Regions from separate parts of the Homo sapiens genome. Here all the other regions are linked to region 3. The links come from fine-mapping of genetic effects on gene expression. A gene starts in region 3. Each other region holds a variant in brackets. All regions are shown on one strand. Distances are between the middles of the regions.

The links. PIP is the estimated chance that this variant, and not a neighbour inherited with it, causes the effect.
Region 1: its variant is fine-mapped to the expression of TREML1 in whole blood (INTERVAL, PIP 0.96).
Region 2: its variant is fine-mapped to the expression of TREML1 in whole blood (TOPMed, PIP above 0.99).

The regions. Positions count from the first base shown.
Region 1 is chr6:40,999,741-41,009,727 of GRCh38, reverse strand. All of the region lies in intron 1 of LOC101929555 (a long non-coding RNA gene), which reads left to right. Among named protein-coding and RNA genes, the nearest start is that of UNC5CL, 34 kb to the left of the region's middle. The variant AC/C (reference allele first, on the strand shown) is at 5,540.
Region 2 is chr6:41,044,180-41,054,166 of GRCh38, reverse strand. TSPO2 (translocator protein 2) reads right to left here. Exons shown (of 4, transcript NM_001010873.3): 4 at 9,830-9,987. APOBEC2 (apolipoprotein B mRNA editing enzyme catalytic subunit 2) reads right to left here and starts at 965. Exons shown (of 3, transcript NM_006789.4): 1 at 689-965. The coding sequence starts at 819. The variant C/T (reference allele first, on the strand shown) is at 5,469.
Region 3 is chr6:41,148,759-41,158,593 of GRCh38, reverse strand. TREML1 (triggering receptor expressed on myeloid cells like 1) reads left to right here and starts at 4,247. Exons shown (of 6, transcript NM_178174.4): 1 at 4,247-4,348; 2 at 4,504-4,836; 3 at 7,210-7,312; 4 at 7,687-7,775; 5 at 8,281-8,333; 6 at 8,676-9,257. The coding sequence starts at 4,306. The coding sequence ends at 8,990. It overlaps TREM2 (triggering receptor expressed on myeloid cells 2), which reads left to right. Exons shown (of 5, transcript NM_018965.4): 5 at 1-86.

The sequences.
Region 1 (9,987 bases), 150 kb after region 3:
AGGCCCACAAAAGAAGCATTTGGGTGTGACTTTGTGTACAGATGTGTGGTCTCTCAGAACCTTATCCATAGCAACTAGGAGTTTTGAGGATCACCCTCCCTACCCAGCCCACTCTTAGGAGACTCTGCCTTGGAAACGAAAGCCAGGCACCACTTAGGGTTCCTTAGGCCTGGAATCTGGAAAAAACCAGAAACTCCAGTGCAAGGTATTCATCTACTAGCTGTTGTGGCTGAGTGGGTTTCTGGAAGAATAGATAGCCTTCTCCCCTTGGGCATCTCGGGGACCAGGGGTTGAGAAGAGGGATTTGGCTGCAAGTAGGTTATTCAACTGCTGTGGACTGAACTGTGTCTACCCAAAATCCAAATGTTGAAACCCCAATGTAGCTGTATCTGGAGATAGACTTTTGGAGGTATTTAGGGTTAGATGAGGTCATGAGGGTAGGGCCCCCATGACAGGATTAATGTCCTTTAAGAAGAGACGTTGGAGCATTCTCCTGAGCGCACTCTCTTTCTTCCTGTCTCTTGTTCTCCCTCTTTTTCTTACTTTTTCTCCATGTGCACACACCAGGGAAAGCCCACATGAGCACACGCTAGGAAGATGCTTTCTACAAGCCAGGGAGAGAGCATTCAACAGAAACCAAATTGGCCAGCACCTCGATGTTGGAAAACTGTGAGAAAGAAATTTGTCTGTTGTTTTATTCCATCATGGGATTTTGTTATGGCAGCTCAAGCTGACCAAGACATTAACCATCTCCCTTGACTGGGATTGAAGGTTGTCCCTGGATGTGGGACTTTCAATGCTAAAACAAGGAAAGTCCTGAGAAAACTGGGATGAGCTGGTCATCCTAGCTATGAGTGCCACTACCCCACAGTCTGCTGAATTGTGGGGGGCATGCCTCAGACTTTTCTGCCTCTGCTTTCTCATCCCCAACATCCCACTTCATCATCTGCAGAAAGGCATGTTCTTCACATGTTCAACAGCTGAGGTCTGTCTAGAAGAGCTCAGGGTTCTGACACCTCCTTGATGGCAGCGCAGTGGAAGACTCACTTCTCCCTGCAGAAGGGAGGTTCTGATCCCTGCGGAGAGATGTCTGGTAACAGAACACTTGAGGTGGTGGGGGTGAGGGGACAGCAGGGCTTTTCCAGGGAGGCCAAAGTCTGAGAGACCTTGCTTCCAAATCCAGAGACCATCCCTTACTGGCAGCATAGCCCTGGGCAAGTCACTCTTGATCCTGGGTTGCACAACTCCAGAGATTGCCATTCATACAGAAGACAATGCAGATCATGATACATTTTAGGCTTGTTCAACATGATGGAATGAAATTACTTTATCTCAGAGTCCATTTGCTCAGCTTCATCAAAAGAAGATAAGATTGACTTCACAGGGCTGCAGAGAGAATTCAACAAGATCATCTTAGTAGGCGCCTCATCAATATTGGCTCTTGCTTTCCTTCTCCTCCTTAAGTCCTATGTAGGCAGTCTAGCACCATGGCTAGAGGTGTGGGCTTTGGTCCGAGACTGCTGAGGTTCCAGCTGTGTGATGCTGGGGACACATGGTGTGAAGTGACAATGACAGTATGACCCACCCCATAAGGCTAGGCTGTTGATTTTATGAGATAACACAGATTCAGTGCGGCCACAGCACCTACACCTAGCAAGGGTCCAGTGTGAGGTGTCATGACTCTGTTCTTTGTAAAGAACAGAGTCCTTCCCACTCTCTTTGCTTCTTTGACCTTCAGCTTCTGCTTTTTTTTTTTTTTTTGGACAAAGTAAAACCCTTTGCCCATGTTTGATATGGGCTTTTCCTCCTCCCCCCTGAGGGTGACAGTGAGAGAGGCACAGTGTGAGTGAGCCCACCTCGGCTCACCTGGCACTCATTTATTGAGGGCGTGCCATGCAAGGTCCCTTGCTGGAGGCCTTATGAACAAGGGAGGAGGAAGAGAGGCCTGAGGTTTTCAGAGGCAGCCTGAAGGGGCAGAATGAGGGTTATCTCAGAGGGGCCTCTGAGAAGGGAGAGGCCTGGCAGGAGGAAGCCAGAAGGACCTAAAAGCAGTCAGGGTTCCTATGCTAAGCAGACACTTCTATGAAGACTCTTTACTCTCTCCTCCTTAGCCTGGGCTACTGACTCAGGGCTGCAAGGGCCTGCTGGAGACTCAGATGCCCCTGTGACCTTTAAGAGACTTATTTTCAGGGTCCTTGGGGGCTGAGGCAGGGTCTGAGGGCCTGGACATCATCATGAATCAGGTAGGCCAGTAGTTCTCAACCCTGGATGCACAGTAAACACTTCTGGAGAAATGCTATAAAAGAAACTTGGGCTGACCCCTAGAGATTTTGACTTAAATGGTTTGAGGTGAAGCCAGAGCATTCTCCTACTTCAATTTTTAATTTCAAAAAGTTTCAAATCTATGAATGAGTTGAAAGAAGAGTACGATGAACACCTGGAACGTTTCACTTACATTAGCCATGTCTCTCTCTCTCTATCTATGCCTATGCCTATCTATCTATCATCTATCTATCTATCTATCTATCTATCTATCTATCTATCTATCTATCTATTTATCTATGTTTCTTTCTTTTTTCTTTTTTTTTTTTTTTCTTGAGATGGAATTTTGCTCTTGTTGCTCAGGCTGGAGTGCAATGGCGTGATCTCGGCTCACTGCATCCTCTGCCTCCTAGGTTCAAATGATTCTCCTGCCTCAGCTTCCTGAGTAGCTGGGGTTACAGGCCTCAGCTTCCTGAGTAGCTGGGGTTACAGGCATGTGCTACCATGCTGGGCTAATTTTTGTATTTTTAGTACAGACAGGGTTTTGCCAGACAGGGTTTTGCCATGTTGGCCAGGCTGGTCTCAAACTCCTGACCTTAGGTGATCTGCCCGCCTCGGCCTCCCAAAATGCTGGGATTACAGGCATGAGCCACCACACCTAGCATATATATATTTCTAAAAAATCTGAATCATTTAAGTTATAGACATCATAATACTTTCTCTTAAACACTACAGCACATCTCTTCTAAAGATACTCTCCTTCACAATACCATATCACATTCAAGAAATGTAATATTGATATAGCACTATTTCATATACTATCCACATCCAAATATCCTCCATTGTCCCCACAATGTCCTTTGTAGTTCCCTCCTTGATTCAAGGATCATGCATTGCATGTGTCTTTATTATCCTTGAGTCTAGAATAGATCATTTTTTAAAATTCTTCTTGACTTTCTTTTTTCTTTTCTTTTTTCTTTCTTTCTTTTTTTTTTTTTTTTTGAGACAGGGTCTCACTCTGTTGCCCAGGCTGGAGTGCAGTGGCATGATCTCGGCTCATTGCAGCCTCCTCCTCCCTGTTCAAGCGATTCTCCTGCCTCAGCCTTCCGTGTAGCAGGGACCACAGACGTGCGCCACCTCCTGGCTAATTTTTGTATTTTTAGTAGAGACGGAGTTTCACTTCACTATGTCAGGCTGGTCTTGAATTCCTTGACCTCAAGTGATCCACCCGCCTTGGCCTCCCAAAGTGCTGAAATTACAGGCGTGAGCCACTGTGCTCGGTCCTTCCTGAGATTTTTGAAGAATCCGTGCCATTTCTATTGTAGAGAAATTGGCTGCCATTTCATGTCAGTTGGTCCCGTTATTAGATGCTGAGTTTGATCATTTGGTTAAGTGGTGTCCACCACTGTTCTCCATTGCACCCTTGCCCCTTTTTACTTACTAAGTAATCTGAAGGGGTTATATTTGAACTGCATGAATATCTCACCAACCTTTTATTCAATGGTAACAGAATACACCGATGATTCTTAGCCGAGTAACTCACTACGTTGTAAAATGGTAATTGTCTAATTCTATCATTCTACTTCATTAACAGGCATTCTTTCATGAAGAAGAGTTTCCCCACCCTTTTGAATATCACCATGAACTGGGGAACTTAAAAAAAATCCATGTGTCATAATTAATTACAAATATTAAAACTCAAATTGTCCAAAATTTGCCTGGTGGGAGCCCTTTCAGTTTGGCTCCCGTGCTCCTTTGACATGTCACCATTAGAATTTGAGCACTTTCTTGATTTTTAGCGCAACCTGACATCCTAGGCTTACCCTGTACTGTCTCTGCTCCAGAATCGGATCAGTCATTTCTCCCAAGGCTCCTGGCTCCTTTCAATGGAGAACACTATTAAAAAACCAAATTCTGGGTGCTTGGTGCACTCATTCCATTGGAGCATTGTTATTTCTAGGCTCTTTCAGTGGATAGAGCTAGCAAATACTTTTTCAAAAAAAGAAATCTTGTATTTACTTTGATACTTCCAATTCAAATCCAACACCCCAGGGTCTTCCTTCCCTTCCCACAATCCCTATTCATGTGTTCTTTCTCTCACAGTGAGAACTTGGTTCTCAAAATGCCAACATATTCATTAACTTTCTCTATTCTACAACACACACAAATCATTTCAGAGTTACTGCACCAGTTATACTACTAAGAACAAACCTACTCAGTCAGGTTTAAGGCATCTTTGTGGTGTTTATTCTCTTTAGAATATATTCCATTAAGGGTGTATAGTCAGGGTACTGTGTCCCAAATTCTTTGAATTAGAATTTTTCTATATGATTTGATACAGAATTAGGTTTCATTTGCTTTTGTTAAAACTCATCTTTAGGTTTAGTTTTTTTTCGCTCTTGGTAATTTAATTTTGTTTCTAAACATGTAAAAACATTTAAATGATTGAAAAATCAAACATATATAAGACGGTATACTAGAAGATGTCTCCCTCCGATCCCTAGCCCTTTTGCTACATTTCTACATTTCTATTCACACCCTGCAGATAACTATTTTCGTTAGATTCTCATTTACTCTTCCTGGTATTGTTGTTGTTTTAAAATAGCATTGATCCAGCTGAAGAGGAAAAATGGAAATTTAGCTAAAGAAACTAAGTGAATCTCTCTTATAGCTAGATTAGAAAAAAATAGTGCAAGAATGGAAGGGTAAGTTGTAGTAAGAAATTAGGGACGCAAGAGGCTTAGAAGCCAGGGAACCAGGGCATCTTCTGGGCTTGAGAGTCTCAAAAATTTGATGACCCTAAAGGCAATTGTTGGTGGCTAACCTTGCAGAAAAATGTTACTTCCTGAGGATGAGGCAGGATGGTCCTTCCCTTAAAGTGATGGAAAGGGGTGATTTCATGAGGCCTGCCCTCAGGAATAAAAGCCAAGAGAATTCAAAGTATGGGCCAGGGACTATAATTAAGAACTTTTAGTCTCTTGCCGGGCGCGGTCGCTCACGCCTGTAATCCCAGCACTTTGGGAGGCTGAGGTGGGTGGATCAGGAGGTCAGGAGTTCGAGACCAGCCTGGCCAACATAGTGAAACCTGGTCTCTACTAAAAATACAAAAATTAGCCGGGCATGGTGGCATGCTCCTGTAGTCCCAGCTACTTGGGAGGCTGAGGCAGGAGAATCGCTTGAACTTGGGGGGCGGAGGTTGCAGTGAGCCGAGATCATGCCACTGCACTCCAGCCTGGGCAACAGAGCGAGACTCCGTCTCAAAAAAAAAAAAAAAAAA[AC/C]TTTTAGTCAGGCTCTTAAGTAGAGAGGTGGTTGGGAATAAAGGAGTGACAGCTGTCAGCAGGAGAAGAAGCAGCCTGGGTCCGAAAACAGTTGGCTTAGGATTCAGAAGTGGCCATGAAGGTTCACATTTTGTAAAACAGCCTTCAGCGTCCCCTAAGTGACAGAGGGCAAGGGCTGAATCCAGCAGTGTGGCCCCACCTGTAAGAAGTGGGGTAGGAAAATCTACTGTCTCAAATGAGCTAGGGGTTCTGAACTCTCTGAGGAACCCCATTGTTCTCTGTTCTACATGCAAAAATTAAGGGAAAGATTTGCGTGGAGAAAATGATTTAACATTCGCCGAAGGTAAAGTGAGGGCTGTGCTGCCTAACTATGATTTTACCTCCTTCTTTTCCAGTAAGGAAAGTGGTCTTCCAATTGAAAAGGGTAGAACAAACATTGCAAAGAGGGGATTGAAGTCAAGGACAGGCATTGAGGCAGTAAAGCCGGTAGCAGCAGCTGTGATAAACTCAGGGCTCTGACCCTGATGAATTATGTCGTGCAGCCTGGGAGGGACTTGACATGAGATTTCAGAGTCACTGTCATCAATCTTTGATAAATTATAGGGGAGGGATTTGCGCTCAATGACATGAGATGGGCATATGAGCTCTTGACATTCAAAAAGGGGAAAGGAATGAATTCTGGAAGTTACAGAGCAGTGTGCTGGGATGTTCTCACCAGTGGATGTTGGGAAGGTGCACACCTTCAGCAAAACTGGTTTTGAGTTCCAGCTCTGCTTCTGGACCAGGGCAGGGCCTGGGCAGATATTTAGAGGTTAAGTTTCTACATTCAGAACCAAGGTGGTCTGGAGGGGGTCCAACCAGGGGGACAACGGACACGTTTGGGGTCTTCTCTTCATTCCTTCTCTAGTAATTCCCGATTTACCACCATGGACTTCCGGCAGCCATGGTTTCCTGTTTTAGGTTGGTTTCCAGAAGCAGACCCTGAGGCAAAGGTTTGTGTGAAAGTGTTAGGAAGTGTGTTCCCAGGGAAAATCCAGAGGTCGTAGGGAACTGGAAGAAAGAAGGGAAAGAAGTGAGTATGAAGCAAAGTGTCCCCGAGGGTAACTTTGGAAGAGTCCCACAGGGGATGTCTGTTAATGGTGTAAGTCACACTTCAGAGTTGTTTCATCATGGAGAAGGCTGGAGAATGTTTAATCCTTATGTTGTCAATCATATTGATTGAGGGTTGTCTTAGGGGATGTGAATTCCCAGGGCTGAGGCTGCCCGAGAACAGTCCTCTGACACAGAGACTCAGGTGCCTGCTGACTCAGGTGGAAGCACACCAGGAGGGGATCAAATGCCCTGAGGGGACATCAGGAGGGCACCGACAGCCTTCACAGCACTGCCTGACCCCTTGCAAACTAGCTGAGACTGTCTCTGGAAAGCACCCCGTCCAAGGTTAGCCCACTGGCTTTCCTCTCCTAGGAGCTTGGAGAAGGGTCTGAGAACTGCAGGATGGAGCCTGGGCTCATTGGGCAGCCATGTCCCCCCACCATTTGGGCTCTAGGGACATTCGTCATGTCTGACTGCTTAGCACTTTTTGAGCATCATTCTAATCCTTGTTAGAGTTCCTGACATATGGGAACTGCTGCTCCAAGGCAGAATCCAGAGAACTGAGATTTTTAGTATTTTTTGCAGCTGGTGCCAGTCATGTGACCCAGGCTCCACCGGTGAGGAGAACCTACATTAGACTTTGATTTGGAAACACATAGCTCTGGGTGGTGTATTCATTTTACTCATGCAGCTGGCAACTCAGGCTTCTTATTTTTGGGATCCAGTATCAAATTTCCAGTGCAGAGGTGGCAGCCACACAATTGCAGTAGAGTTGAGTTCCCGGCATCCAGTGTCAGCCTACTTCCTTTTGGGGAGCGATATTAAGAGTAACAGGTCTAAGGAATGCTGTAGGCAGAGGCTCCTTGGTCAGAGAGATGTTTGACCAAGTAGCTTAGCCAGAAGACAGATGGCAGAAATGTGGTGGGCTAATCGTTGGTTCAACCATATCAGAAGAGAAAGGGGATTAGTGCATTGATATTGGCTGGAAGAAGGTCTCTAGTGGCATACCTTAGGGGTCTGTCTTAGCCCTGTTCCATTCAACATTGTTATCAATGACTTGGATGAAGACATGGGAGGTATGGTCCTCAACACTATGGATAACACAAAGTTGGCAAACATGTTGGGTTACAGAATCAGTTTTCAAGATGATCTTAATATCCTGGAAAACTAAGAAAAAGATAAAACCCAATAGAATACCTTTTAGTTGTGCATTGAGTTAAAAAGAAAAGCAACTGTATAAGGACAGACTTAATAAGAGTGGGCGGAAAGAAAACTTTGGAAGGAGAGGTAGTGTTCCTCTTTACATATTTATATCCCACATATTCCACAAAGGATTGTAGGGGGCTTATAAAAATACATGAAATAGGAAAGAGTTAAAACACAGTTGAGGGAATTGGGGCAAAGTTAAAAGTAGAAAAATACTAAAAGCACAGATAAGGCAAAGTCCCAGATATGCATATGGCCCAGTCCTGCAGTGGTTACAAAAGGTGCCCTGAGCTCCCCTGTGGCTGAAGCAAAGAGGGAAACTTGATCTAATTTGAGATGTGCATAACAAATCTCATAAAAGATAAAACATAAAAGATAAACAAACCATTTATCCAGAAGAAGCACTGCTTTTCTTTACAGTGAAACCTGAAAGAACGTTCTCTTCTGGGTCCCTATGAAAAGGACACCTTGTGAAGCAGAGGATAAAGCCCTCAAAAGGTAGGATATCAAAACAAATTCAGTGAAAGCAATTCTACTTGGAGCCAGAAAAATTTTATCCAAACACCAGTTCTGGTTTGAGGTTGAATGTTGTGTTTCTCTCTAACTCAATGTTTCTAGACTTTTCTTCAGCATTGTTCCCCTAAGGAAAAAAAATTCCCTTCCTTTCATTTTTTCCCTATCCTAAACACTATTTTAAATAATAACATAAAATAATATAAATTTATAGAGAGATAAGATATGTATTGATAAATAAATGTATAGTAAACATAAATTAAGAAATAATTACATACTATTTTGTTGGGCAGGATTAAACTTTGGAGGGTCATAAAACTTTGAAACATCTAAGATTTTTCACACCCCCACCCCAGCCAATTTCCACCCCCTTGGGAGCACTTGGGAGCATTCACACCCTGGAGAATGCATACTCTAATGAGATGGAGAATGGAATGTCTTTGGGCAGTTCTCCCCAATCATAGTTACTCTCTAGACAGCACTTCTCTCTCTGGTGAATTTCCCTCCAATTGTAATTGGTTTTTTGACCGATGTGACTCCATGGAGTACAATCAGGAGGTGGCTTTATTTTTCTCCAACTATTGTTTTCTAGCTCTCTGTTGCATTTCTCTTCCTTATTTCTGGACCATCCCTTGACGTTGTTTCAGGCACAGCCCACAGCTTTTTGGTCACCTTCAGTTATAATAACTAGTTTTATTTTGGCTGCCTCACCTCACTTTCAAGCATTGAAAGGTCGTGGCCGGGCTAAATCAAAACTTCAATCTCATACCCAGCACTATGCTTCTCCCCTCCCCATCCCTCAGCTCAAGCCTGAGCTAGGTCTGCCTTGGAGAGGTGGCCTAGTCTGCTTTTTACCACCTTCCCCCACACCTTGCCTCTAGTTCCTGGGCTTCCCTTTTAGGAGGAAGTCTTATCAGACCTAGAGTAGGGACACATTCCGTAGTGGTCACGTGGCCCAGATGAGAGGGATGCCCACCTCATGCCCTCTCTGTACTTGCCACTGCAAGCCAGCCCAGCCAGCTTCCTACATTCCTTTACAATTCTCTGGACAAAAAGCAGGTGCCAGCCTCCCTGTTCCAGAACCTGGGGGCAAGGGCAAGCCCCAAGCTCCTGTCTGGGGAGCACCATGTCAGCCTACTGGTTTCTGTGGCTCAGCCAGCACCCAGCTGGGTATTGGACTCACTCTCTCCCTCTCGAAGGCCTCCTGACCTCCCTGCTGTTCTCTTGGATCTTTGTGCCTCACTTGAGGATGGGAGAAACATCTTCCTCCTGCCTTCATGGGGAAAGGGAGGGATGGAGAAACACCCTAGCCTTTCCTACTAGGCTGACAACTCCCTACTCTTAGAAATGCGCCTATTTCAATGGACTCGCAAATCTTCTAGTATTCTCTTGGGGTGGTGGAGGTGGGATGGGAGGATTGGATCACTCATCTTTGAGAAAATCCTGCAGGTATCCTCTGATCACTTTCTTTTTAGACTGCGGGGGCACTTTTACTTATTGCTATCCACTTTAGGGCTTTTAGCAGAAGTTCTGAGATTGCAGGGAAAATCCCATTTGATGTCCCATTAAGTGTTCAAACTTCCTCTTTGACTTGGCTGCCTTGCCGGGGATCTGCTTGCCAAGGGCTCTCTAACCT
Region 2 (9,987 bases), 100 kb after region 3:
TAGACCCTTTTCTTTGGGTCCCAGTTCCTCCAGGCAATGCCTGAGCATGTTGGAACAGCTCCTGTGTCCATAAGCTCCTGGGCTGCGTTATCTGCATGTAATTTCTCTGTTTCTCTGTGGGACAGCCCCTGAGGAGACTCAAAAGATTTAATAAGAAAAAAGCTGCTTCTGAGTCTTGGGAAAGGATGGATCTATCTTTCCTGTCTTGGGAGCATCTACTCCAGGAAGAAGCTCTAAAGAAAGGGCTAGAGGCCTATGGCTAGCGGAGAGACCCACTCAGGAACAGAGAAGTTGAGGGGAAGGGTTGCTTTGAACGGAGCCACATATAGATGTGCCAGTCTCATCCTCTGTCCTCGCCAAACTCCCTGGGACTAAGCTTCTACCCAGAGAGGCAGGTGGCCATCCCAATACCAGGAGGCCTGAAGGGTGGTTTTATTCTCTGGGCTTTTGCCTCCAAGGAGCTCCTCCTACCTCTCCCTGATTAGAGAGCCCAAGGTGTCACCCTGAGAAGCCAAGAGAATTTGCTGCTGGGTCCCCTACCACCCCTGCCGGGCCCACTGGTGCACTCTCACTGCTGCAGGGTTGTAGCTGTCCCTGACGCCTAATATAACCATCCTGAATTTCCACAGCCTAACCCAAGGCTGCACTCTTCTAGGGAGCAGAACCCTGACCCACATCTGAGGCTTACCCTGTGACAATCTCAAAGGGCGGCAGCTCAATCAGCTCTTTCAGCTTCTCAGGGTCGTCCAGGTTCTCCAGATCCTCCCCATTCTGGGAGGCAGCCTCAGTGGCCACAGCAGCCTCTTCCTTCTGGGCCATGGAGGGGCTGTGGCTCAGGAGTCACTGAGGGAGAGGAGAGAGGCAGGCAGGTCTGGGCCAGGCCCTGGCGGCAGAGTCCCAAGCAGCTGTCAGCAGCTAAATCTGGCTGGGGATGACGGGAAAAGGACCCAGCAGGCCAGGCTTCGTGCTTTCCCCACTTAGCCACAGGCTTTATAGCCAAGGCCTCCTGCCCCTCCCCCAGGCTCTCTCCCTCTATCTTTTTTTAATTGAGTGACAGCGGGTGCTGGGGTGGGGGAATGGAAAATCTGGCCATTAGTATCCCCTATTTATCAGTAGGCAAAGACAGGAACCTGGCAGGTGGGTATGGCTTGGCCTGCTCTCTTCTCCCTCTCCCTCTCAGCTCACCTTATGTTCTCCCCTTTGTTTCCCACCCAAATTCCCTAGCTCCACTGGGGGAGAGTGTGGAAGGGGCCCCAGGGCAGGCATCCTGAGATTTAGGAGGGTGGCCTTCTGAGATTTAAACAGGAGGAGATGTGTGTTGAAAGGGGCTGACTGCAAAAAGACCCAGGCCATTTGCTTTGGGGGAACGTGGGTTCAGGAAAGGAGGGGTCCTGGCAGAGGTGGGATCAAAACTGACAATTTGGGGAGTAAGTGTGTGAGTTATGACTCAAAAGCGGTGGGTGCTGATTTGCCTGTTACAAAGCCATAATGTAATGTCAAATCGATCAGGAGCCTCCCTGAGTAACAATAGCTGCCATTTACTTAGCTCAGAGATTTTGAAACAGGCCAGGCAGTGGGTTTAGGGGTTTAAATGAAATCAGATGCATGCTTGCCACAGCCATGGGAGGCGATGTGTATTATCCCAAGTTACAGGTAAACTGAGTCACAGAAGTGTGCAGAGCCGGGATTAAAATGCAGGCTTTTGTACTTCAGGCCAAATATTCAACCTCCATGCTATGTGCCCTCACAGTCAGTCTTTTATTCTTCTTAACAAATATTTATTGAGTATCTACTCTATGCCAGGTGCTGTTTCAGGTACTGGGAATATGGCAAAAGAACAAAGCAAATGAAAATCCCTGCTGTGATGATTTGTGGAGCTTGAGGAACTGAACAACAAATAAGGTAAGTAAAATACATGGTCTATTTTGTGATGACAAGTGCCAAGGAGAAAAGACAGGAAATGGAAACAGGAAGTGCTAAGAGGTGGGGTTACGTACTTATAGGATGGCCAGGGTGAAGGACTTTGAAAAGGAGACAATTGAAGAAGACGTGAAGAAGGCAAGGGAACTAATCATTTGGTTGTCTAAGAGGAAAGCGTTCCAAGGAAGGGAACAACGTGAGCAAAGGCTCTGAGAAGGGAGCATTCCTGGGGTGTTTGAGGAACTAGCGAGGACATACATCTGGGTGACTGAAGAGTTCTAAGAGATTAAGCCAGAGAGATAACAAGGGTAAAAGGGACTGGGGCCTTATGGGCTGTCATAAGTACCTTGCTTTTTCTCAGACTGAGGTGGGAAGCCATTGTCTCTGAACAGGTGAGACAGGTGGTCTGAGCACTTGGGAAGAGCAGAGGCAGGGGACCAGTGAGAAGCCTACTGAGGCCAGAGAGAGATGATGGGGGCCCATAGAAAAGACCCTGAGCCGGAACAGCAGCAGAGGATGGCTAGATGATTTTTGCAGCTCTCATGATGGGTACTTAGCAGAGGCAAAAGTCTTCGTGTTTGGAGCAGTGCAAACACTCTAGGCCATTCTCAGGGAAGCAGAAGGAAGGGGTCAGGGTCACTTGTAGGTTGAAAATGAGGAACCTAAGAACACTGGGGAACGGATCTGAAAACAGCTCCAAATGGGTTTGGCTGGTGGGGATGAGAGGGTAGGGCACCCTTTGGAGGGTCTGACTAAAGAAGAGGAGTCAAGATGGTTTGGAAGATTTAGGGCTCACTCCTCCAGAGAGTCTGAGCAGCAGAGTGCTCTGTTAGTGTGATGCCCAGCATTTTGGTTTGCCAGTCATGGTTTCTTCCTGTTGTCCAGACATAATTACTAATAGCACCCCTTTACTCCCAAAGGTGTCCCGCTGTGGACAATAAATTATATGGTCCCCTACCTTTTGGATTTACTACTAAAAGGATTATTATTATTTATTTTTTGAGATGGAGTCTCACTCTGTCACCAGACTGGAGTGCAGTGGCACGATCTTGGCTCACTGCAACCTCCGCCTCCCGAGTTCAACCGATTCTCCTGCCTCAGCCTCCAAAGTAGCTGGGACTACTGGCATGTGCCACCAGGCCCAGCTAATTTTTGTAATTTTAGTAGAGACAGGGTTTCACCATGTGGCCAGGATGGTCTCCATCTCCTGACCTCGTGATCCGCCTGCCTTGGCCTCCCAAAATGCTGGGTGGCATGAGCCACCGCGCCCAGCCACTGAAAGCATTTTTATCTGGATCTTATTTTTTCAAACATTTTTCGGGGGGAATAAAGCACTGAGTAGAGATAATAGTGCCTGTGTCCACAATAAAAAGACAGTGGCAGCTGATAAACTGCAAAGAATGTTGTTATCACACAAACATACCACGTTTAAATGTAAAGAGTTTACTTCATTTTCTTGTTCAGTCAACATTTATCAGAGGTTCCTATGTTCCAGGTGCGGTGGTAAATACCAAGAGTACAGAGATAAATAAGGTGCTGGCTCACCAGGGGATCCCAGCTTTTATCATATTTGGGGCATTAATCAAGCATTCAAGCATGCATTATCTCATTTAGTCCTTACACCAGTCTCACATGGGTGTGAATTATGGGCCTCATTTTGCAAGTTAGGGACTTGTGGCTGAGAAAGGTGAAGTGATTTGTATAAGATCACACGGGCTTTGAGTTCAGGTCTTCAGAGCCCAAGTTCAAGTTTAGCCTATTCCCAGGGCTGCGCACAGCTACCTTTGATGAAACATCTCTGAAGCATTATAAATGTGCATCCCTCTCACACTTCCCAGGCCCAGCTAGGGTGATATGCTTGGATCAACGGAGGAAGAGTAAAATGTCTTGGGGAGGAAAGCAAGGAGGATGGATCCTTTCAGTTCACTGTTCCCCTGCAAGAAAGACTTCCTCCCTGAGGACAGGGCCTTCTATTTTGGCTGTCATGTATAACCCTGGATTAGGAGGCAAAAAATATTCTACGTTCATATCCCCATCTTAGCCCGATTCACTGTGTGATCTTGGACAAATCACTTGACATCTCTGAGCCTCCGTTTTCCCATCTGTGACACAGGCTGTGCTATTGATTTCTATTTCCAAATGGTCAAAGGGCAGAAAATAGGGCGCCGAGTGGGCTTGTGAAGACCACAGGTGAATGGCGTGTCGAGAATTTCCTGCCTCTCCCAACAGCTCAGAGTGAATGGTGCCCAGGTGGTCTCAGGCTGGTCCTTAAGAGTTGACCCCTTTCTTCTGTCTTACTTATAGACAGTTTTCCCTTCGACCTTTGGGAGAGGGTCCTGGGTCTGCCCCCAGACTGATGACTGACAGCTTCCTTTTTCACTGCTCCTTTGAGCCTTCCCCGTCTCCCAGCCTGCCATCCCTGGAGGCCCTCTGATCTGCTCTAGCTATTTATGGCACCTCCTGGGGGCCTGAATTCCTGGCTGGTCTCTGGCTCTTCTTTCCAAGTCAGACCAGTTTACTCTGCTCACCCCAGAGTGCAGCAACTAATCTGGGGGATCAGATTCCAGGAGCTTGACTCCTCTCCCTACAGCTGCCTCTATACTCTTCAGGGCTGGCACACCCCACACCCAGTGTTAACCCTATTGGGTAAGGTTCTATCAGTAGTCCCCCTCCTGCACAGGAGGATACTGGGCAGTAAGGTATTTCATTCAAGGTCACATGTGGAGTCAGTGGGGTGCTGGGATTTGAACCCATATCTGTCAGCTCCCAAGTTCCATGCTTCTCCTACTGTGTCATATTCCCTGGAATTTAGTAACAAGGAGAGCTGACATTAACACAGTCCTTGCTGCTGGCCTGACATTACTCTAAAATATTATGTAGGTTAACTCATTTATTCCTCACAAGGATGTTTGGGGTAGGTACTATTATTATCCTAATTTTTCTGGTGAGGAAATTGAGACCAGAGAGGTTAAGTGACTTGCCCAAGGTGATGCAGCTAGAGAGGGCAGAGCCATGTGCTTCCAGAGTCATGTTTTACCTCCTTCACCATTCAGTCTCAACTGCTGCCAGCACCCATGAGGCCCAGCTCTGGGAGAAGGGAAGGACAGAGACCAGTGGGAGTTGAAGAAGCTGAGAAGGAGTTCTTGCAGGAAAAACAGACTCTAGGGAGTAATTGGTACATGAGGGGTGTGTGTGTGTGTGTATCTGTGTTTTGGGGGTACAGGTAAAGAGACACCAGACAGCTAGTATCTGGGGATGGAAACCAAAATTGGAATCCTCCCAGCCTGTCTCTGCAGGCCCTTGCCCCCTTCTGTTGGGATGGCAGTGGCTGAAAGGAGCTGGGTTAGGCCTGGGATACGCTGCAGCATGCCTCTCCCTGTCCTGTTTCCCACGGTCATTTCAGAAAACATTCAGAGATTCTAGGAGGTGGCTGAGAAGGAGAGGACAGGGTCAGGCATGGTTGTTCCTTGGATCTTGGCTGGATGTGGAGCTGCCCTCATTGGGAAGGGAGCAGAGAGGCCAGGAGCAGGGCTGGTGGAAAATAGAAG[C/T]CTCACCAGAGGAAGGTTTAAATTCTCACTCCCTGAAAGAGGATACCTCAGGGGTGCATTGATGGAGTCGGTGCTTTATGTGCAGGGACAGCTGGGACCCCAACAGTACGTTGCCCCAGAGACACAGCCCAGGCCTGCCTGCCCCTCTGGTCACTACTGAGACAAGGTACACAAACAACAGGGCTCGGGCACCAGACACCCCTCTGGAGGGCGGGAGGCTGCTTCCTCTAGCAACTGCTCTGTTGATATAAACGTGAGGTGTCCAGGGCTTTGAGCAGCCTTGGCCAATGAAGAGGGGAGGGGGCCAAGGGTCTCCCAGAGTCTGAGGCTGGGATTGGAGAAGGCACCAGAATCACAGGGCAGGACAGAGTTTACAGTCTTCTGTACAGGACACAATGCTTGCTTTGCCATGTGGGACACACCACCCTGGGTAAAATGGTGACTTTAGTCCTGGTCACCATGGTTTCCATTCCAGTGGCTACTCCTGGCACTGCCCAGCTCCCGTGGCTGGCACTTTCAGTCTTTAAAGAAAGTGATCTGATAAGGATCATGTACATTAAGGTGACTAATAGTATTCCTCTTTGAAGGGGTGTTTGCAAGGCCAAAGAACCTACTGGGAAGAGGTGACAAACTACAATCAACTTGAGAGGGGAATTTCAGCCCTTAAAATGAGAAATGTGTTAGAGTAGGTGCAAGTGGACGCTAGGGGGATTTTTCTGGTACTTGTCTTAGCGGATAATCTCTGTGTGGGCTGGGCGACCTGGGAAAGGGACAAATGAGGCCCTGATGAACATGATCAAGGCCCTGGTGTGACCAGGGATGGCTTCCCCTGGCTTCCATACCAGAAGAAGAGCCTAAATGTATGGAGTGTCCTCAACATTTGGGGGTGGGGGGAGAAGGAGTCTGGGAGGCAAGTAAATGTTTTTTTGGGCTCTACTTGAGGATACAAGAGGAAGGTCGAGATCTGAGGGAGTTCTCAGCAAAGTTGGGCTTTGGACTGAGTACCTTGTAAGCTGCTAATGAGAATCAGCAGTAAAATCCTTAAAACAAAAGGATTGTGTGCTTGTTTTCTGGAACTACAAGAAAGGGGACCTCTGGGAAGACTCTGAAACTGGGCTTGGGGTACAGGGGAGCCCCAAGCGACAGAGCAGATAGTGGCCATTCACAAAAGAAAAGAGACTTTGGAGCCCTGGCCCAGGACTGACAACATTCAGGGGCCTCTAGGCATCTCCTGCGCAGCAGCTCTACCTGCCTGTAGGTAGGAGGGGCCAGAGATGTGCAGAATAAATACATCCTACACTCTGCCCTGTTCCTAGCCCAGCTGACCAATCTTTGACCACTAGACATACACCTACCACTCTGCCATCTCACCTAGCCTCTCTATGTTTCCATTCTGCAGAAATTGGCAAAGTGAGGAAGAGTGAAGGTTTAGAAGAGGAAAGGATGAACTAGGATACAATAGAATGAGATATGCCACCTCCTGGGTCTGCTGTTTTACCTAGTGCCTCTCTAGCCGCTGGACGGGAGATCTGCAGAGCCTTATGATCTTGTCTGTCTCCGACTCAACCAAATCAGAGGCAAATGGAAAAATACTGCCTCAGAACAAAAATGTGCACATAATTTGAATGGTGGAAGCTTGGGATACACTTGCAAAGAGAAGAGGCAGCTCCAAGTCTATTTAGGCACAGCTCTTAAGTAACAAGAGAGGAGGGGCAAAGGCAGGTGTCCACTAGGCTGGGCTCTGAACTGGGAAGTGGGGTAAGGGGAAAGATAAGAGCCCCAGGGAGGTTGGAGACTGTGGGATTAGGGGCTCCCTTCACCCAGGAACCAAGGAGCTGGGGCAGAGGAGGATTTTAAGGACAACTTTGGAGTTAGAGGATAAGAGTTTGGAGTTGGGATTCTGCCCTTTCATGCTGAGTTTCTGCACATGGCCAAAAATCTCTTTAGCTTGGCTCATGCTGTATCAGGCGGTCGTGCTAGCCCAGGGCTTGGGACACTGCCCAAATTAAGCTTTCTTCTAGGGCTAAGTCCTAAGCTAGAGGCATGGGTTAGTGGCTCCAGCTTGCCTTGGGGAGGTCAAAGTAATACCCTAGGCATCATACATCTTCTTGGAGGTTCCACCTAACTTCTAGAATTAGCTGGTAATGAATAAAATTGGTAGCAAATATTACAATGCATATATTATTATGAGATGATAATAATGATAATGGAAGATAATGTCTGGGGTGCCCACTTGCCAAGATCACACAATGGTGGTAGAGCTGGGTAAGAACCCATGTATTTTGGGTTCCGAGCCTATCCTCTGTCCATCAGTATTTATAGCTAGAAGTTGCACCAGGTTACCAGTTAATAGATAACAGAGTCAATATCCAACCCCAGGTTGGTCTGACTCCATGGCCAGAACTGCAAATCACCATACCCTATTGCTCTCACTCCCCAAGATGACCTGATTTCATGGGTCTGGAGTCCCAACAAGTGTCTCAGGAGGTCTCTGGGGCACACTTTGAGAAGCAGTAAGAAGCAATACCCTGCAGCAGCACATCTCAGTTTGGCTGCACATTAGAACCAGGAGTTTCCAAAATGATTAAAGCCTTTCCCTTCTTTTTTCAGTTGTTCCAGAGTAGGGGTGGGGGTAGGGGTGGCGGCAGGTGCTGGTCAGCATTTGTTTTTAAAGTACAACAATGTGTTCATTTATTCGTTCAATTAATCAACAAATAAAAACGTACAAGCACCTACTCTGTGCTCTGCCCTGTCCTGGGGCTGGAGATACAAAGGTGGGTGGGACACTGTGTGTGTCCTCCTGGGGTGCCTGTGACCTGACCCACTGGGCTGAGCATGCCCTTGGTGGAGGAGGGGAGGCTGCAGACTCCCTCTCTTGGGTGAGCTCTGGAAAGAGCCACTCCTCTTCTCAAATTATGCTGCCTTACTGGCTTCTCACCTGAGAGCATACAGTTTGTTTCAGCTCTAAAACTCAGCTCACAAAACCTCAGAGTGTCAAGGCTAAACGGGCCCTGATAAACGATCTGTGCCCAAAGCACTCAAACTAGCTAGCAGCTGACAGAAGTGCTCAGGAGGTTTTAAATCTGAAGATGCCAAGAGCCCACCCGCAACGTTCTCATTTATGGGTCCTGAGTGCGGTCTGAGGAACATGCATTTTTTTAAATAGCTCCAAACAGCTGTGGTACAGCCTTGGCTGCACCTGAGGAGGTCTTGGGAAGTTTTAAAAATGTTGATGCCCAGGCCTCCTTCCTGGAGAGGCTGATGAGGATTTTTAAACAATTCTGGTGATCCCCATCATGCAGCAGGTGGAGACCCCCTACTGCAAGGTGTCTGGGCCTTCCAGCTGACCTTGTTAAAGATTTGAGGAGGCTTACTCAAGGGCGGTCACTCCTTGCCACCATCAGGGCTTTGAAACAAGGACAGAAGAAAATCAGAGAAGGGAGGAGTCAAAAATTAAAAAGCCACTAAGAAGGTTTAGAAAAAGAGAAGCAAGATAGAAGGCTGAACAAGAAGCTCCTATGGATTCACCTGTCAGCACCCTGAGGCTTAATCTCTTTTTTTCAATCTTCTTTGCCTTATTCTAATAGTAATTAATTGATGTAAAATAAGGAAAGCATAGGAATGTATGAAAGCAAAAAAGAAGGTCTATAATCTTATTTATCAGAGATGTATAACATATATATCATACAACCATAGTATATGTTATAACTAGATATTGCATCATAAATCTGATATATAAATTAATGTATAATATATACTATATAACCTTAACATGTATAATTAGTATCCCCCCCTTTTTTTTTGAGATGGAGTCTCACTCTGTCACCCAGGCTGGAGTGCAGTGGCATGATCTCGGCTCACTGCAACCTCCTCTTCCCCGGGTTCAAGTGATTCTCCTGCCTCAGCTTCCTGAGTAGCTAGGACTACAGGTACTCACCACTGCACCCAGCTAATGTTTGTATTTTTGGAGGCAGGGTTTCACCATGTTGGCCAGGCTGGTCTCGAACTCCTGACCTCATGATCCACCCGCCTTGGCCTCCCAAAGTGCTGGGATTACAGGTGTGAGCCACCACTCCTGGCCCCCTAGTACCCTTTTTTAAGGTGTATTTTTCTGTTTTGGCTTTTTTGTCACTTTTAAAAAGCCTTTTGTTTTTCAGGTAATTAAACATCTGAGTGCTAAATCTTTATGCCAGGTGGGGAGGCATGTGAATGGAGGCGAGCTGGTGTGCCCACCCCTCCCCCATGGGCCTTCACACATTCATTCACGCGCACACACTCACACAGAGGTCCAGAAGCTTCTATCCCACTCTGCCGCCCTAGTCATCATATTATGCATTCAAATACACACTTCACATCATACCTTCAGAGTTACTAATAGGATTTTATTATTTAAGTGTAAAATCAGTTTCCCCCCCTTTCCCATTTCTCTGATTTCTAAGGAAAAACGGCACCAGGGGACCCAGGAGGGTGGTCCCATTGGGGTGAACCCTAACTCCACAGCCCTGCTTGCAGACTCTTC
Region 3 (9,835 bases):
GAGGTGGTAAGAACACCTGACAACTTCTGAATATTGGACATTTTAAACACTTACAAATAAATCCAAGACTGTCATATTTAGCTGGATAGTTTTGGGCATCATGAAAGTCTCATTTTCTTCCACAGGGGTAAGAAAATGAATTTGGATGAGAAAAAGACAAGAGATTTTGCTCCTTGAGGCCCAGGACCATAGGATACCACATCCCTCCATTCTCACAGGCTCAATCAGCCAGTCAGTTTTTTTCTTCTCTCTCTTCCCTTCCCTAGATCTGATCGCCAAGTTCTGCCTCCTCCTCTGGGGTTTCTCTAGCACCCAGTCTTCCTCTGCTCTCCTCCCCAGCATTCACCCTCTCCATCAGCTTCCCCTGGATTATGGAACCTCCCTGCCCCAAGGCCCCCTCCAGCTGACTCAGTTCTTCCCCACCAAGGTCAACTCCTGGCAGACTCATCCATTCATCTCCTTAGAACTCTGTTTTCATCATATCATTTCCCCTTCGGAGAAATGACAAGGGCTTGATAATGTACAGCATTATCAAACTGGGAACTGATGGTTCAAGCCCCTCATCATATAGAAGGGAAACTGAGGCTCAACAAGGGAAAGGAACTTACCCAAAATCCCCACCCAAAATCCCCAGTAGAGCCTGGAAATCCAAATTTCACTTGGCATTCAAGGTGCTCTTTCCTCTGACTCACTCCTACTTATTTGTTCAACAAGTATTAGTTTGAGCAACCAGTCTGTGGCGAGTACTATTCTGAACACTGGAAATACAACAGTGGACAAAAGAGGCAAGAGTTGTGCCCACACAGAGCTCACTTTAGTGGAAGGAGAGGAGACAGACAATGCACACAGTAAGTAAGTCAATCTGATTCCCTGTTAGAGGCACAACGTGCTGAGGAAAAAATTAAAATCAAGCAGGGTTAGGAGTATGGGTGTGCAGGAGGGACAGGGGATGATACCATCTTAAATGCAGAAGCCAGAAGGTGCCATTTGAGGAACACTTGAAGAAGGCCAGGAAGTGAGCCATGAGGACATCACGGGGAGGAGTATTCAGGGCCGAGCGAACAGCCAAGGCAGCACATGCAACCTCAACTCTCTCTTCAACACACACACCACCCTGGCCAAGACTCATGGGGAAACTGGGAGGAGACTCCCCTGAGGGTGAGCTGCAGGGGAAAGAAGAAGTGAGTCGGCCATATTCCTGGGCTCTCTGGACTGGGCCCCAGAGAAGTGGATGCCCAGGATCCCCTGTGGCCATAGCTCACATGGCTGCCTTGCCACCTAACCTGCGCTTGGGCACCTAAGGTTTAAATCACTAGGATGGAGCCCCTGGCATGGCCCTCATGTTCCAGCCTCACTTCAACATGTCACTCCCCTGGTCCCAGCTGTGCCCCAACCCTGCCTTGTCCACTCCCAATGTAAGCTGCTCCACTGGCTCCCTGTCCTGGAGCCTTGGGATTCTGGTCCAACCTGTGTTCCCATGGCCTCCCTGGCTCAGGGGCACATTAAACTTCCTCATTGTGTCCTGGGGCATTGCCCCCTTCCTATAGATCTAGGGCACAGGTAGCACCAAGAATGAGCCGAGCCCAAACTGCGCCTTCTCCACCTACCTCCTGCCCCAGTTGTGGGCACCAGTGCCGATGAAATGGCCTGGGAGGCTCCCCGCGGCCTGCCTCGTGCTCCAGGGCAGTGGCTGCCATCAGCCCCAGCCCAGAATCAGGCTTTCCTCCTCATGGGAGCTTGGCCTTTTCTCTTTCCTTCTCTGCCATGTCAGAGACATTCCTCTCTGGACTGGAATCACCACAGGCTCTCCTGCCTCAGACTCTCTGCGAGCACTCTGGACTGAAGGGAAGTGAGGCCATTTGGCCTCAAATTTCAACTCTGCCTCCTATTAAGACACCTTAGGCAAGCTCCTCAATCCCTCTAAAACCCAGTGCCCTCGCTTGTAGAAACAAATAAACAAAACAACCACTTCCCCTACTTTGCAAGGTTTTTGTGAGGTTGAAAGAAATAACATTCGTGGCCAGACATGGTGGCTCACGCCTGTAATCCCAGCACCTTGGGAGGCTGAGTGGGGTGGATTACTTGAGGCCAGGAATTCAAGACCAGCCTGGCCAACATGGCAAAACCCTGTCTCTACTAAAAAAAAAAGAAAGACAAAAATTAGTCAGGCATGTGGTGCATGCCTATAGTCCCAGCTACTTGGGAGGCTGAGGCAGAGAATTGCTTGAATCTAGGAGGCCAAGGTTGCAGTGAGCCAAGATTGCGCCACTGCACTCCCGCCTGGGTGACAGAGTGAGACTGTCTCAAAAGAAAAAAAAAAAAGAAAGAAATAACATTGTGAAGGTCCTTGGCCAGGTGACTGGCACATAGTAGGTCCTCAATAAACACTGGTTTCCTTCATCTAACGCCCAGCAACATGATGTCTCCATGAAGGCCAGGATCTTGCCTGGTCACCTCTGTCTCAGCACCCAGCAGTGGACCATATTCAACACTTAGTCCAGTGTTGAATACAGTTCACCTCTTCACACAACACGCCTGGGTGGCTTGTTAGTATGAAAATAACTTTCTTATAAGGAAATCAAAGAAAGCCTGATATGCATTGGCAAGACAGACATAAGCACATCACCAACTAGGGTGACCCGTCCTGGTTTGTTCAGGACTTTTTCAGTTTTTGCACAGAAAGTCCCAAGAAACCCCTCAATCCCAAGCAAAAACGGGAAGTTGGTCACCCAATCTCCCACTTCCACAAGGCCCAGCTTAACACATTAACTGATTTTCTCATGCTCCTGCTCCCAGTTTCCCATTCCTCACTCCCTTGTTCCCAAAGGAAGGAAGGAAAAAGAGGAAAAAAGGTGAGACGGGAGGAGATGGGAGTGAGGGAGAATGGCCTTTCCAGGCCCTTTTCTAGGTCTTACCCTCCAGATTAGGGCAATACGCCCCTCCCACCCATCCCCAGCTGCTGTAGTCTCTCTGACCACTGGTGCTTCCCCTGTGTCTGAGGTCAGATAGTTTATTAGGTTTATTACTCACACTTTGTCCCAGTTCCTCGAGCCCAATTCCACAGGGCAACATGAATGAGAGCCAGGTGCCTCCTGTGCAGGCAGTGAGTTTGGATCACAGGAGAGAAACCCCCAAATTAGGAGACTTGGAGTTTATATAGAGAATCTGGTATATCTTCCTCTCTGGAAGAGAGAGAGAGAGAGAGAGAGAGAGAGAGAAACGTTTACTCTGGAATGTAAATCTCCGGTGAAGAAGAGGAAGAATGCGAGCAAATCTCTGGACGTTGCACTCAAGGTATGTTTGCTATTCAATCACCCTTCAGCAAAACTTGGCCAATACCCTTTGCACAGAAGGACTAGAACATGCAGCAATGTGAAAATATTTGTGAAGAATTGTCTTCCAACAGAGAAGATAGAGCATTCATGAAACAAAAATAGTATGCCAGAATTTAAAAATGCTCAAAGAATAAGGAATATCTTGTCTTGTAAATTAAAAATATTAAAAAATAACATTTTAAAAGACAAAAATAGAAGGATGGAAGAAAATGAGGAAATCTCCTTGAAGGCAGAACAAAAGAGACAAAAAGATGGAAAATGAGATAGAAAAGATATGAAAATGAGATGAACACACGACATTCAATAACCAACTAGTTAAGGAATTGCAGAAAAATGGAAGGGGAGAAGAAAATGGACATGTAATTATCAAAGTAAGAATTTGTTTCCCAGAACTGAAGAATGTGGATCCAGATGGAAGGGTTCTATAGTGTCCAGGACAATAAATGAAGAAAGACCCAGTCCAGGGCACAGGATCAAGGTGAAACTTCCTGTTTGAGGTTGTACTGCATACAACCTCCTAAAAGCTTGGGTGGTCGTGGGGCACTCCCAAAGAATTGAGAGCAAGAATGGCATTGAGTGAGGTGCAGGGCACTCTACCTTCCTCCTTCATAGCTGTGCACCCTCAGATTCTGTATTAGGAAGATCCTGAAGATCATCTTTCCTCTTCCTCTCCTGTCCTCCAATTGTCACAATCCTCCCATCTCACCCCTTAGCCGGGCCCCAGCCCCTGCAGGCTTCTAGCTTTCTTCGGGTCTTCTCATCCTGTCTTGCCCACCCTTACCCTCAGGGCAGTTCCTGAGCACTGAGCCAACCAGGGCTTGGAAGAACTCCCTTTCCCCACCCCTGGAGGTGCCCATCATTTCCTTTCTCCCACCCCAAGTGACTTTCTGAGGCAGATGTTTCCTGCCCTCAGGCGAATGCTGCATCAGTGCCCAGGCAAGCCCAGGAGTTGACATTTCTCTGCCCAGCCATGGGCCTCACCCTGCTCTTGCTGCTGCTCCTGGGACTAGAAGGTAAGGTTCAGGAGGAGCTGCAGCTCTGGGCCCCATATGCTCAGCCCCATGTCCAGGAGTAACGTGTTATTGTGAATGCCACACCCATACCAGCAGCTGGGCTGGGAGATGCTCCCAGCTCCTGCCCAAAATTCCCACCTCCTTTCCTTCCCCAGGTCAGGGCATAGTTGGCAGCCTCCCTGAGGTGCTGCAGGCACCCGTGGGAAGCTCCATTCTGGTGCAGTGCCACTACAGGCTCCAGGATGTCAAAGCTCAGAAGGTGTGGTGCCGGTTCTTGCCGGAGGGGTGCCAGCCCCTGGTGTCCTCAGCTGTGGATCGCAGAGCTCCAGCGGGCAGGCGTACGTTTCTCACAGACCTGGGTGGGGGCCTGCTGCAGGTGGAAATGGTTACCCTGCAGGAAGAGGATGCTGGCGAGTATGGCTGCATGGTGGATGGGGCCAGGGGGCCCCAGATTTTGCACAGAGTCTCTCTGAACATACTGCCCCCAGGTGAGTTATCCTAGGCCAGCTACCACCCCTTAGACCTACCCTCCCCACCCCCGCCTATTGCCAGGGCTCATGGGTTCTTGAGGAGTGGGGGCCCCTGGGGAGGAGGCATTCCAAGGAGATATCCTCTTGACAGCTCTGCAGGGAGCGGAAACCAAACTGGGTGGGAAGTCTGAGATAAATCAGCTGAAAACCATCCCTTTCCCCCTTCCACACTACTGCGCTTCCCCACAGGAAGGCATGTCCTTCCCACTCCAGGGACTTGGCCTCTTCTTCCAGCATTTTCAACATACTTGATGCTAACTTATTTTTTAATTAGAAATATTTTAAACAATGTTGAATCTGAGTGTATAAAACCAGAATTAATTTTTGTAGCTTCCAGTGTTTTATTCCTGTAATAGCGGGCTTGATGGCTTAAGAATTATGGAATTCATACCTTAATTAATTTTATAAGTCTTCACAGGCCATCTAGTATGTCTCACCTACAAGTAGGTACATTCAGTGCCTGAACAACTTCAACTCCTTTCGTTTTAAAAATGGAAAAATGTCATTAATATTTTAAGCCAATATTCTTGACCCTATTTTCAGTATTAAAGACACTGTTTTTGCAGGTTTCATTCCCACAGCCCATAACTTTTCTAGTATATAAGCATTTGTTAAAAGAAAATTTTAAAATATTAAAAACTTGGGTTTTTTTTTTTAAGAAAGATAGGATGTTCTAAAAATAAAAAATGGTCAGCTACCTGAAGCACAGACAGCCACTCCTTTTCTTTTATGGATACTGGCCATTTTTTCACCTTTAGGTCTTCCTTTTCTCATATTTTATGCCCAACCCCCAAATAATAAAATTAAGTAGAGCATTTTCCCTTCCCTTGTTTTTTGTTTTGTTTGAGACAGGGTCTCACTCTGTTGCTCAAGCTGGAGTGCAGTGGCACTATCGGCTCACTGCAACCTTGGCCTCTCGGGTTCAAGTGATTCTTGTGTCTCAGCCTCCCAAGTAACTGGGACTACAGGTGCCCACCACCATGCCCAGCTAATTTTTGTATTTTTAGTAGAGACGGGGTTTTATCATGTTGGCCAGGCTGGTCTTGAACTCCTGACCTCAAGTGATCTGCCCGCCTTGGCCTCCCAAAGTGCTGGGATTGCAGGTATAAGCCACCACCCCTGGCCCCTTCCCTTGTTTTTTTTCCCTCTAAATAAGAGGGTAGACTATGTTGTCATTAGAATCCTTCTCATCTCAAGCCTGTGGTTATTGTTTTATATTATAAATATATTGTTAATCCTTGTCATCCTTTGCCCTCCTCATTCCTTGACACTTTGAGTTACTAAATTCAGGTTCTAACTCACTAAAAGGCAAATTGTGACAAGATGAGACTCCCTGGGAGGAGCGTCAGGGAGGCAGGGACCTGGGCCCCTGACCTGCTGCCATGGGGCAGGTGCTGTGGAGGATGATGTTCAGGCAGGCAGGTGGCGCGTAGCATCCAGAGATGATGTGGCTTGCGGCTCAGGTGAGCATTTAGCTTCAGAGAAGGTGGTCAAAGGCAGCCTAATAGGCACCAGGAGGGCAGGACATGTGCCACAGCAACCCCAGTTCCTGGTGTGGCATAGGATGGGGAGTAGGAATGGTGAATCTCTCAAGAACAAGGCAAGGCCCCATTCCAGTCGGTCTGAAAGGACTGGCCAGGTTCCTAAGACAAGTCTCCAGGCCCAGAGAAACCAACCCCAAGTCCTGCAGCCAGAAGTCAAGCACATCATATGGGTGACAGAAGCCTTGTCCTCAAACTGAGTCTCAGGATCCCAGCAAGGCTCTCAGCAAGGGTCAGTTGGTTTGTGTTGCATCACATGAGGGCCCACCCAGATTTTCTTCAGTCCTGAGGGCAGAGCTTGGGCTAGGGTTGCAGGGTCACAGGTATGTGAGGAAGCCCCATTTAAGACCCATGAGATCCAGGAGCTATGTCACCATTGAGGATGAGAACTGCAGAAACCTATTCGGGTGGGAAGGAGAGGTGGGTACAGATCATCCAGTAGGTGTTTTTACACAGACTTAACAGCTTGATAAGGCCAGAGGGGTGAGGGGTAGAGCAGGTAAAAGGGAAGAAATGCAGCAGGAAGATGGGGGGAGCTGGTGGTAGAGGGAAAAGTGGGTGTAGTCACAACCAGGTAAAGACATAAAGAGCCAGTGCCATTTCCTGATCTGTGGAGTGACAGGCCCCTAAAGAACATCCCAGCCTCCCCTTTCTGTGTTTCTTCCTGGGGTCCTCTCCTTCCTTGGCTCCACTCCTCCAGTCCCTCAGACCTCAACAGGATATTGAAGCCTGCCCATATGGGCATGCACTCATTAAATGTTTCCTTCTGACTCCATTCCTGGCCTGACAGAGGAAGAAGAAGAGACCCATAAGATTGGCAGTCTGGCTGAGAACGCATTCTCAGACCCTGCAGGCAGTGCCAACCCTTTGGAACCCAGCCAGGATGAGAAGAGGTACTGACAGGATTGGATTTGGGAGGCCAGGAGAAGGGTGGTGGTGGAGACAATGACTTGTTTAGAGCTCCAAACTAAATCGAAGGGGAAAACCTATGATTCTTCCCACCTCTGGGGAACTTCTGGACAGACAGACAGACAGATACATACTTCTCTGTCCTGGGTCAGCAATGGTGCCTTCATGCTGGTGATTCTTCAGCCAGGATACCTTAATGAGTCCCTCTTCTGCCCTACCTCAGTCAGCTCCCCTCATTCTATTTCATCTCCCTCTCCCAATCAAGAATGTAACCCTTCTGTCACTGCTCCAGGGCTCCTGGCCAGCAGCTCCCCACAGGCTTCAGGTCTAAGCCTGCCTATCCCTTTCTGTTCCTCAGCATCCCCTTGATCTGGGGTGCTGTGCTCCTGGTAGGTCTGCTGGTGGCAGCGGTGGTGCTGTTTGCTGTGATGGCCAAGAGGAAACAAGGTAGGTGGCTATCTTCCTATCTCAGCCTGGCCCTACCATTCCAGTATCAACCAGTTGTGCAGATGAGGCCAGGAGTCTAGGTCCAATCCCCCTACAAATGGATTTGCCTGGGCTTAAGTCTCAAGGCCCCCATATCCTAGAATTCCCAGGGCTGAGGGATGGAGGGGAGGGAAGGAGATTCAATGGGAGCAGTCTGCAGAAAGACAGGAATTAGAAAGGGTAGGGCAATGCAATGGGAGGAAAGGCATTGGAGAAGGTGGGGAAAGGGTCTCGGGAGGTAGGCTGAGCGCTGAGGTGGGTTGAAGGGAGCTCTGGAAGCAGTAAGTGGGTGGGGAGATTTACGGCAGGCTGGGGAGATGGAAGGGGTAAAGGTTTGGTGGTGGGAGTGGGGAAGGTGAGTCTGCAGTAGTGAAGAGGTTTCAGAGGCTTCTGAAGGAAGGGAGTGAGGGAAGGGCTCTGAGCCAGCCCCGGAAGCAGACTATGCTGCTGTTGTCTGTCCTGCCAGGGAACAGGCTTGGTGTCTGTGGCCGATTCCTGAGCAGCAGAGTTTCAGGCATGGTAAGAGGCCTCTGCAGGCCCACAGCCAAATTCCCCAGACTTTCCATTCATCTCACTCACTGAGAGGTCCTAGGATGATGGGGTGGAGAAAGGACTGGGACCTAGTTGGGGTCCAAACCCTCTTCCTAAATGCTGTAAACTTGACACTAATGGTCTCCCTTGGCATCCCACCCTCCCAGATTTGGGGAGAAACTTGGGGCTTGAAAATCTTCACAATGAAGCCCTCTTGCCCACTGATATACTCAGGATTCAAGAGATAGATCTAGTGTGGTCCTGGGCTTCCCACCAAAGGGAGTTCTGGGGCAGAGGGAGGCATTCCTGACTTGCCTGCTTTTGTTACAGAATCCCTCCTCAGTGGTCCACCACGTCAGTGACTCTGGACCGGCTGCTGAATTGCCTTTGGATGTACCACACATTAGGCTTGACTCACCACCTTCATTTGACAATACCACCTACACCAGCCTACCTCTTGATTCCCCATCAGGAAAACCTTCACTCCCAGCTCCATCCTCATTGCCCCCTCTACCTCCTAAGGTCCTGGTCTGCTCCAAGCCTGTGACATATGCCACAGTAATCTTCCCGGGAGGGAACAAGGGTGGAGGGACCTCGTGTGGGCCAGCCCAGAATCCACCTAACAATCAGACTCCATCCAGCTAAGCTGCTCATCACACTTTAAACTCATGAGGACCATCCCTAGGGGTTCTGTGCATCCATCCAGCCAGCTCATGCCCTAGGATCCTTAGGATATCTGAGCAACCAGGGACTTTAAGATCTAATCCAATGTCCTAACTTTACTAGGGAAAGTGACGCTCAGACATGACTGAGATGTCTTGGGGAAGACCTCCCTGCACCCAACTCCCCCACTGGTTCTTCTACCATTACACACTGGGCTAAATAAACCCTAATAATGATGTGCAAACTCTTAATGGCTGAATGGGAAAGGAAACTGCCCAAGTTTGACTAATTGCTTGGCCTGTGAATGGAAAAGACTCTGGTCTAAATTTTGTGCTGTATGATCTCCTGTCTCTCGTCAGTGGGGAAATGGCTTCCTTCCCTGGTCAGAACACTACAATGCAGTTTGATTCAAGGGACGCTGAAAAGTCTTCTTCAGAAGTATTTTTTGCTTATCTCATGATGCCTCCAAGTATAGATTCATTTGCTTGAGTCAAGGAAGCTCTTCTCCTTTCTGCTCTGCACCTTGTGAATATGTGACATGATGCGAAAGCATATGATAGGGCGGGGGTGGTGTTAGATTAATGATAAGTTAAAAGAGACCCAGGACAAATGGTGTGTTAGAAATGGCACTGGAAAGAAATAGGAATAAGGACAGAAATGGAAATAGACACCAAGTCTGTTCCCTGGCAGGACAAAGGATTTTCAAGCACCAGAAGACCTTTACAGACATCAGTCTTATCAGAGCTGGCTGTCTCTTAACTAGGTGGTCATCTGGTAGCACTGTTTCCTTTGGTCTAAACTCTGGAGCCCGGGAAGGGCCCCATGGA